2 separate regions of the Homo sapiens genome follow, and region 1 is linked to region 2. Evidence: fine-mapped expression QTL. A gene starts in region 2. The other region holds a variant in brackets. All regions are shown on one strand. Distances are from middle to middle.

Region 1 (4,384 bases), 110 kb before region 2:
CTCAGAGGCCGGGTGCTCGCCGGTGCAGCTCCCCTTCTGCACGGAAGCCCATGAATCTGACCGCTGGCCTGGGGCTCCTCCCTGGGGTGGCTCCGGGCTGGGGTGCCTTTGAATGCTGCCGGCGGCCGCCTCTGAGACTGAGTGAACAAAGTTCATTTCTCTCTGTCTTTCTGAAAATGATACATCCAGCAACATGGGAAACCAAATCACCCTTCCTGGTTTCAAAAGACTTTACATTTTGTTGTTTAAACATTGAAAACTGTATGTATGTGGCTAGCATTTAAGGGGCAGTGTCTTAAATTTGTCTCTTCACATCACCCTGTGCAGCTGGGATTATTGCCCCATTTTACAGACAAGGAAACTGAGGCTCAGGCAAATGAAGAAACTCACCCATCAACAAACAGTAGGAAGCAACAGAGCCAGGATTTGAACCCAAGCACATGTCACTCCAGAACTTAGGCTCCGTGTGTGTGTGTGTTTTGTTTTTCTGCTGCATTTTGAATTTAGAATTCTTAGATTTGATCCTAATTCAACCTGAAAAAGAATTCTGAAGGCCACCTTTAGATCTGATGCTGTGATCTGGTCTGTTGAGAAGCTGTTTCCCATCTGGACTTCCTTCAAGAGAGATGGGCTTCCCAGTTTGTCTGGCCTGAGAGCCAGCTGGGTGTGAGGTGTCTGAGCCGGGGCGCAGGTCTCTTTCCTGTTGTGCCCGCAGGCGGCTGTCTGGAAGAACTGGCCCAGGCTGGTTGGAAAGGTGGTGGCTTGAAGCTAACCACCCTGAGCAGGGCATTTCTGGGCTCACAGACCTTCTGTTATTGGGGTGATCACTGTCGATGGCTTCAAGGGCATTGACCGTGGTGATGGAGTTTTGAGGCGTTGAGCTGATTCCTGCATCTTTGAGACAGAAATAATTCCTCGTGGGTTGAGTGTTGTCCTGACGCTCAGGAGGAGTCACCAGAATGTGGAGTGGGGTCATGGGGCCTACATGCTGAGTCTGGGACAGAGGCACCGCAGGGGGCATGGGCTGGCCGCCATAGGCGCCAGGTGGGGCAGCTCAGCCCCAGACCTGCTGAGGAGGTGGCCTGGGGTTGGGGCTGGGGCACAGGTGTCTGGGCAAGGGTGGGCTTCAGGGATTGTGGTGATGAAGACTGAAGCCACAGGCCACAACTGCTTCCCGTCGCTGGGGTGTAAGAGCCAGGGCTCTGGCCAGTAGTCGAGGGGAGATGATGCCCACCGAGGCTCCCTTCCTCTCTTGTAGAGTCATTCATTCACCGAGGCATTCGGTCAGCTGACCCTGAGCTGTTGCCCCCTGCTGGGCACATAGGGTCTTGGGGAGGCACAGAGAGCCAGTCGGCAGCTTAGCCAGTGACTGCTGGGCCTTTGTTTGGGCCCCTTGCCCTGCACACAGCTGATGATGAGACACCCCAGGGCAGATGGAGCACAGTGCTGTGCAGGATGGAGTCCAGACACCCAGCAGTAGCAGGTCCTGGGGTCCAGGGAGGGATGCTGAATGGGTGGCCCTGGCATCTGGGGTCTGCCCACCATAACCTGGGTGGGGATCTTGGGTCTGCGATTGGATCTCTTCCGTATCCTCCCTGACCAGCCTGTCAGAGGGGCCAACACTGGGCGTCGGGCAGCCGTGGAGGCTCGTGAGGAGTGGAGAGGGCCCCTGGGGCTGGGGGGCCTGGGAAGGGAGGCCTGGATGCAGCAGGAGCACCAGAGAGAGATTCGGGTGGCAGGTGGAGACGGGGGCCAGGGAGGTTGGATTGGGGCCTTTGTGTATCTTTGCCTGGGGACTCTGAATCTAGATTCCTGCCACCTTTGAGGTCCAAGGAAACAGAAACCATGTTGATTTGTCTCTCCGTTGAGAACACAGCTGTCGTCCAACACAGCGAGTAGCATCAGAAATTATTCTGAGGTCTTCACAAAAAGACTCTGTAGTGACAGTTCCTGGGTTTGGGGGCCTCCATCTGACATAGCAGTGCTTGTCTTTGGAGACAGAAATCGCCTGTACGTGTTTGGGCCCTTCTTCATCTGGCAAACCCCGAAGGAAGGGGGTGAGTGGGCCTCCCGGGACACTCACTGGCCACTCTGCTGGGCACAGTGACACTCATTATAACTCGTGTGTGTTAAA[T/C]ACATTGGGAAAATAATGCTTTCAGCAGATATCAATTAAATGTCTACTGTATTCTGCAGCATGCCCCAGGCTTAGAGAAAGTAGAAAGAGGAAAATACCATCCAGAGACAGTAACCTCGAGCATTCTGGCATCTTTCCTGCTGAGCATGCGTCCCATTCCCAGGACACACTTGTGACCTTCTGGGCCTTGTGACAGGGCAGTCTGCTTTCCCATACCCTGGGCTGAGCCCCTTTGAAGCCCCCAGCTGCTCAGTGAAGTTGCAGGGGTCTGGCCTCTCTTCTCCTGGAGGTGGCCAGGCTGTGTGGGAGTGGGGGCTCTGCCCCTAATGCCCCCGCCTCCCGCAGGCATCTCTGCCGGCCTTGCCACAACCGTGAGAAGGCCAAGGGCCTGGGCAAGTACATCTGCCAGCGGTGCCACCTGGTCATCGACGAGCAGCCCCTCATGTTCAGGAGCGACGCCTACCACCCTGACCACTTCAACTGCACCCACTGTGGGTAGGTGCGCAGCCCGGCCCTGCAGTTGTGGGGGCGGGGAGCCAGGGCTGGCCCAGGGTAAGGGCGGTGGGGCCTCCACCTGGGGAAGTGTTGAGGAGGGAGAGGGGAGCAGGGTGGGCAGACAGAGGGGTCCCGAGAGCAAGGCTGCAGGGCAGAGGTGGGCTGGGGGCTGGGAAGCAGCCATGGCAGGAAGCTTCTCTCTCCAGGGCTCTGTTTGGGGGGCACTTGAGACTCAGGAGGCGGGTGGGCTGGACCCCTAGACTGCAGACGAGGGTTGAGATGGAGCAGTGGAAGGGACCTGAGGGGGCAGGGCAAGAGACCGGGAGTGGGCTTGGTGCTGGTGTTGGAGAGAGGAGTTGCATAGGCAGCCCCTCAGCCCCCGTCCTCGCCCACCCCCACCGTCCCCTCCAGTCCTCTCCGTGCCTATCCAGACACCCCCTCTGGTTTGGAGGAGGAGGGGGGCCCAAGAACAGACCTGCTTCTCAGAGGCCTGGGTGCAGAACACAGCCCACTCTTCTGGGCTGTGCAGGAAGTCTGTGCTCCAGGGCCTGTCTGGGGCACAGGAAGTCTTCAAAGTGCCCAGAGATCAGAAGGCGCTGCCGCCTCGGCTCTGCAGGGACAGAATGGGCCCCTCGGGGAGCCGTGCCCTGGGGTGGAGGCGCTGCTGGCATGACCCTGCAGAAGGGCAGGGGTGGCACCTGGGGGCTGCACGCTGTCTTCCAGGAAGGAGCTGACAGCCGAGGCCCGCGAGCTGAAGGGTGAGCTCTACTGCCTGCCCTGCCATGACAAGATGGGCGTCCCCATCTGCGGGGCCTGCCGCCGGCCCATCGAGGGCCGAGTGGTCAACGCGCTGGGCAAGCAGTGGCACGTGGAGGTGAGCCAGGCTGGTGGACACGTGGCCTCAGGTTGGGGGGTGCCCCAGCTCAGGGTCATGGTAAGAGCCCTAAAGCTCCTCCACACTCCCAGCCCAGGGCGGGTGGCTGGCTCCCAACGAGGCCCTTCCTCAGGGGTACTGCCCCTCCCTGTGCTCAGCCAGGGACCCCAGCCTGCCCACGGGAGCCAGGAGACCCGAGTGCACACACACGGTTGGGTAGCTGTGCCCACCTCTCCTCTTCCCCCTGCTGGCATTCTAAGAGACTCCAAGGTCAGGAGAAAACCTTGGGGGCAGTCTGTCCAGAGTGCCTGGGGGTTGTGGATGACAGAACCCGCTGCATGGACAGCCCTGTGCAGACACGGAGCTGAAGAGTTCCTCAGGTGTGAGCACTGGGTCACCTGGAGTGCCCCCACCGGGTGGTGGGCTCTCATGTTCTCATGGGTACACTGGGAACAGTGAGCCCACCACCTCCCCTGATGACCTGGCCAGCGCTGTGTCCGGAAGCTGTGCCTTGGGTGGCGGCTTGGGTGGGAGGCCATGCGGTCCTGCCCTGATGCAGGCCCCAGCCCCCAGCCCTCATCCTCACATGCAGATCCCTGGGGGAATGCAAGGTGCTGCTCAGTGATCCCAGGCTTGCAGGGGGTGCCTGCAGGAGGCCCCACGTGGACAGGCAGGGCCGCCTCTGCCTATGAGGGCCCACCATGCCGCAGCACCAGGCTGGCACCTGACTCCTGGGGCTGAGGCTGCCGAGGGGGAGGCCAGACTGGGAGGGGATGGTGACTCACAAGGTTACCATCAGTGCCTTAGAGGAGGGGTAGGGTCTGCTGACCCCAGGGCATTCACAGAGGTGTCAGTCCCCTCTGCCCAGTGTGAATCCTGAA
Region 2 (4,384 bases):
TTTAAATACATGTGTTAAGTAAAATGTATGGAGGCCATTGGTTTTGTCTGAGCTCCTACACAAGGCCAACAGACCAGACCAAAATGGAGTCACTCATGCTGAAGTTCCACACCACCAGGCCCAAACGAAGGTTATCTGACCTTCCAAGAATCAGGAGAGAGACAATAGCTGGAGCCCCAGACAGGCCAGTTTCAGCGGGCATGATAAGGAAGTTCCCTCAGCTCTATCCTTTACAAGGAAAATAAATTGAAATGACTAATCCCCTTTTGTTTTCTGTTTCTCTCAGCCCCATTCTGTCTATAAAGCCAAACTCCTCTGCTCGGCTCATCAGATCATTCATTGTATTCTATAAGTGGGGTGTTGCCCAATTCTAGAATTGCAAATAAAAGCCAATTAAGATCTTTAAGATAAATTTTTTATAATTTTGTCTTTTGACATATGTAAAACAGGAAGCAATATCAACACATATAGGTCATCCCTGTGGTGCCGCCTCTCCACAGAGCCCCGTGCTAGAGCTGTGGATGCAGCAGGCCCCAAGACAGCCGCCTGGGGAGGATTCTCTTAGAGGTGGCATCTGAGGACAGACGTAGGGCCCCCAGCAGGTCCAGGGAGATGGGGTGGGCTGATGAGCTGAGTGGTTCCTAACAATGATTCACTGAGGGTGTGTGTGAATCTCTGAACTAAAATCCTAAACAAAGTGCAGGGTTCTGATAAATTAGAGCAAAATTCAAGTCCAGGGTTACAAAGTGGAGCCTGAAGGGGAGGCCTCGTCATGGAGAATTTGGGGGATCTGGGTTGGGGGCCCCACACCCACCAGCTGTCTGACCTGGGCCAGCTCTCACAATCTCTGTGTCTCAAGTTTCGTCCTCTGTGAAATGGGGATGGGACACACACCACCTGGACAGCTCAAGGGGGACAGCCCATGTGAGCCCCGGTGCGGTCCCTCTCCTCAGCCACCTCTTCCCCCACCCCCCCCCCCACCACACCCCAGACCTGTCCTGCCTCTCCCTAGGGTCCCAGCCTTCCAGAGGTGACTAAAGCCAATTGCCCAAGGTACATGGGTAAGGCGGATAAGCCTGGGCTTTGGAGTCGAATCCGGCTCTGCTTCTTCCCGTGGGCACCTTCGCTTCCATGGTCCTCAGTCTCTGTGTCCATAAAATGGAGGCAATTCCACCACTGTGTTGCGAGGACGCAGTGGGATGTCACACACGGCACAGCTGACATCTGGCAGGGGCTCATCATGGGACCCAGGCTATCCATGATGTCCCATGATTCCACAGTGAGGCCCTCTAGCTGTGAGGAGGCTTCAGGGTGGGAGCAGCCTTGGCACCTGCCGTTCCCCTCCTGCAGGGAGTTTGCCCTTCTACAGCAGAGGGCTAGACAGCTTCTCCCCCTCCTCCTCCTCCTCAGCCCCCCAGGTGCTGCCCTTCAGCCCGATGGACTGAGTCCCCTGCTGCGGTTTCTGGTTTCCAGGCTCCTGAAGGGCTTCTCCACTCTCTATCCCTCAGACCTGTTCCATCTTATTTCCAGGGGACCTGCCTCCTGCCCAGCGACCCTCTTCAGAGAGGTGACCCCCTACTCCCCGCTGGCAGACACGCCCCCGGCACGCCCTTACCTTGTCAGGATGGGGGTCTGGCTGACTCCCCTTCCCCTCCACCCTGGGCACCCTGAAAGAGCCAGGAAAGGAGGCAATGTTGGGACTCCGGGTGTGTCAGGGAGTAAGGGACAGAGGAAGAAGAGGTAGGGCTCCAAGAGGAAATGACTGGGAGCACTCTGGGCCCACGTAATTTATTACAGGACTTTGTCCCTGGGCTCCAGGCACTTCCACTCCCACACGCCTCCCTCAGCCCCAGCTGGCAGAGCCTCATGATACCTGCTCTTTAACCCAGGCCCCTTCTGCAGAGCAGCGATGCATGCTGCCCGGAGGCCACCAGGGTTTGCAGTCTGTGCACCTGCTCTGGCCACCAGCCAGATCCCATGGTGACAGTCAGCTGACCATCCGGGGGCTCAGCATCTTCCCAGGTGCTGCATGGCAGGAGCTCTGCCCCCAAGCACCCCAAGCTCTAATTGAGGGTGGTAGTATAATATAAAATACAGTATATTTGGTCCTTGTTCCCGGTTGGTGTCACAGAACTCCTAAAACCCTTAGAATTTCCAAAGTGATCGTCGGGCATGGTGGCTCACGCCTGTAATCCCAGCATTTTGGGAGGCCGAGGCAGGCGGATCACAAGGTCAGGAGATCAAGACCATCCTGGCTAACACGGTGAAACCCCATCTCTACTAAAAACACACACACAAAAAAATTAGCTGGGCGTGGTGGCGGGCGCCTGTAGTCCCAGCTGGAGGTTGAGGAAGGAGAATGGCGTGAACCGGGGAGGTGGAGCTTGCAGTGAGCCAAGATCGGGCCACTGCACTCCAGCCTGGGTGACAGAGCGAGACTCCGTCTCAAACAAACAAACAAACAAAAAATTTCCCAAGTGATCATCTCATAATGAGTCCGTTTGATAACACCTGAAGTTATGCTGAGGAGGTGACCATGTGGGGGCCCTACCTAGCCTCAGCATGGGGTCAGTCACCAGAAAGACCTAGTGAATAGAGGGTTGGAACTTTCAGCCCCGCCTACTGACCTCTGGGAAGGTAAAACTCTTGAACAAGATTTGACAAGCTTCCACACATCTGAGGTCCCTGGGGGGTGGCATGCGGGAGAGGGCATGGAAGCTCCATGACCTTCCCACACAACTCACCTGTGCGTGTTTATTCGGCTGCTCATCTGTAATCCTTTGTAAAATCTTTTCCCACGAACTGGTCAATATGAGTGCCGTCCTGAGTTCCATGAGCTATGCTAGCAAATCCAACCTCAGGTGTGGGGCATGGGAACCCCGATTTATAGCCAATTGGTCAGAAGTATAGGTGGCAACCTAGGACTTGAGACTGCATTTGAAGTGGGGCAGTTTTGTGGGACTGAGCCCTTAACCTGTGGGATCTATGACTCCAGGTTGACAGTGTCTGATTGAATTGAATTATAGGACATCCAGACGGAGTCTGCTGGAGAACTGCTTGGACACCTGGTCAAGAGAGTGTTCTGTGTTGAGTGTGAAAGGAGCATACACCTGGGACATGTCTGGGGCCATCAGGAAGCCTTAGAGACAAAGGCCATCAGACAACAAGGTTCCCAGGAGGGTACCTGGCAACAAATTGGGCAGGCTTGGGCTGGCACTTGATCAAGGGGGATTTGGGCTTAAGGCAAATACAGACTGTTTAGAAGGGAAGTGCAACCGCAGTGGGCCCTGGGTGGGGTCAGACTGGAGGGGCCAGGCAGTCCCTGGAAGTGAGCAGGAGGGCGAGGGGAGCTCATTTATGCAAGGCTTTGAAGGCGGGTGGATAATAGGGGCAGGTAGTTACCTGGTCAGCCACAGGCCTTGTGTTGGGTAAAAAAGGGGTCTGGTCATCCTTACAGTTGGCCCAACTAGAGCCAATCAGATTCCTTTCTTTTCCTTGGACTTGGAGGGACTTGGGAACTGCAGGCAGAAATGTGGGAATGAGCCATCGTCTTTTAGAACTGAGGTCAAGGCAGGGTGGCAACCCTGAACATGGACCTTTCGTGGGGACACAGACCAAGCGGTGGTGGGAGAGAAAAGGAGAGGTGGACAAGCTGCAGAGGTGGAGACCCAGTGGCTCCAGAGACAGGAGGAGACCCCCGATGCCTCAGGGTTTCCTGTGCCTCCTGTGGGTGGGCTCCATGGAGTCCCCAGTTTCCGTCTATTAAATGTTCTCTTTGTTGACATGGCTTGAAGGAGTTTCTGTATCTTAAAACCAAATGGCCCATCCCAAAGACAGGGAACCAAGCTGGGAGATCCCTTGAAGGACCACTTGGAGGGAGCTGCATGTTCCGAGTCTTTCAGGCGGCCCCCTGTCCCGCCTGTTCCCCCTAGAACAGCCCCCCAAGTTCTGCCCTTGCTCTGACTAGCCTCCTGCTCCCTAAAATTTGGTTCGGTTTCTGGGTCCACACTCAGCCTTTTTGAGCTTCATGCTGCACATGGTTTCTCGGGTTTAGAAAGATACCATTTAGCTCCTCTAGGGCTGACGCTGCTGCTCCTGGCAGCTCCCAGAGATGGTGAACCCCTTGCTCTGGGGCTGAGACTGAGTCCTCTTCGGACCTTTTCTACTGCCCTCATGTAAGAAAATATTGGGACAGAAAATCTGTGTGGACCAAAACAATCTGTAAGATGTTCCCATCCAGTTCTCACCTTATGCAAAATTTGACAGAAACACATTTTAGATACTGACCTGCTATTCTCTGTCTCTCTCTATTTTATGTTACACATTATATCACAAGAACTTTCTGACACTGTACCAAACTTTTACCATTGGTCTTTAGAAACAG

Alleles and levels. Alleles are on the strand shown, and positions count from the first base shown. SD is a standard deviation of normalised expression in the study named.
With allele C in place of T in region 1, the expression in atrial appendage of the gene that starts at base 1,764 in region 2 is lower (moderate effect, 0.41 SD a copy in GTEx).

Evidence for each region. PIP is the estimated chance that this variant, and not a neighbour inherited with it, causes the effect.
Region 1: its variant is fine-mapped to the expression of MYO7B in atrial appendage (GTEx, PIP 0.98).

Annotation. Positions count from the first base shown.
Region 1 is chr2:127,641,168-127,645,551 of GRCh38, reverse strand. LIMS2 (LIM zinc finger domain containing 2) reads left to right here. Exons shown (of 10, transcript NM_001161403.3): 5 at 2,480-2,629; 6 at 3,353-3,503. Among named protein-coding and RNA genes, the nearest start is that of GPR17, 2.8 kb to the left of the region's middle. The variant T/C (reference allele first, on the strand shown) is at 2,135.
Region 2 is chr2:127,533,063-127,537,446 of GRCh38, reverse strand. MYO7B (myosin VIIB) reads right to left here and starts at 1,764. Exons shown (of 48, transcript NM_001393586.1): 1 at 1,616-1,764. RefSeq lists an enhancer at 882-1,732.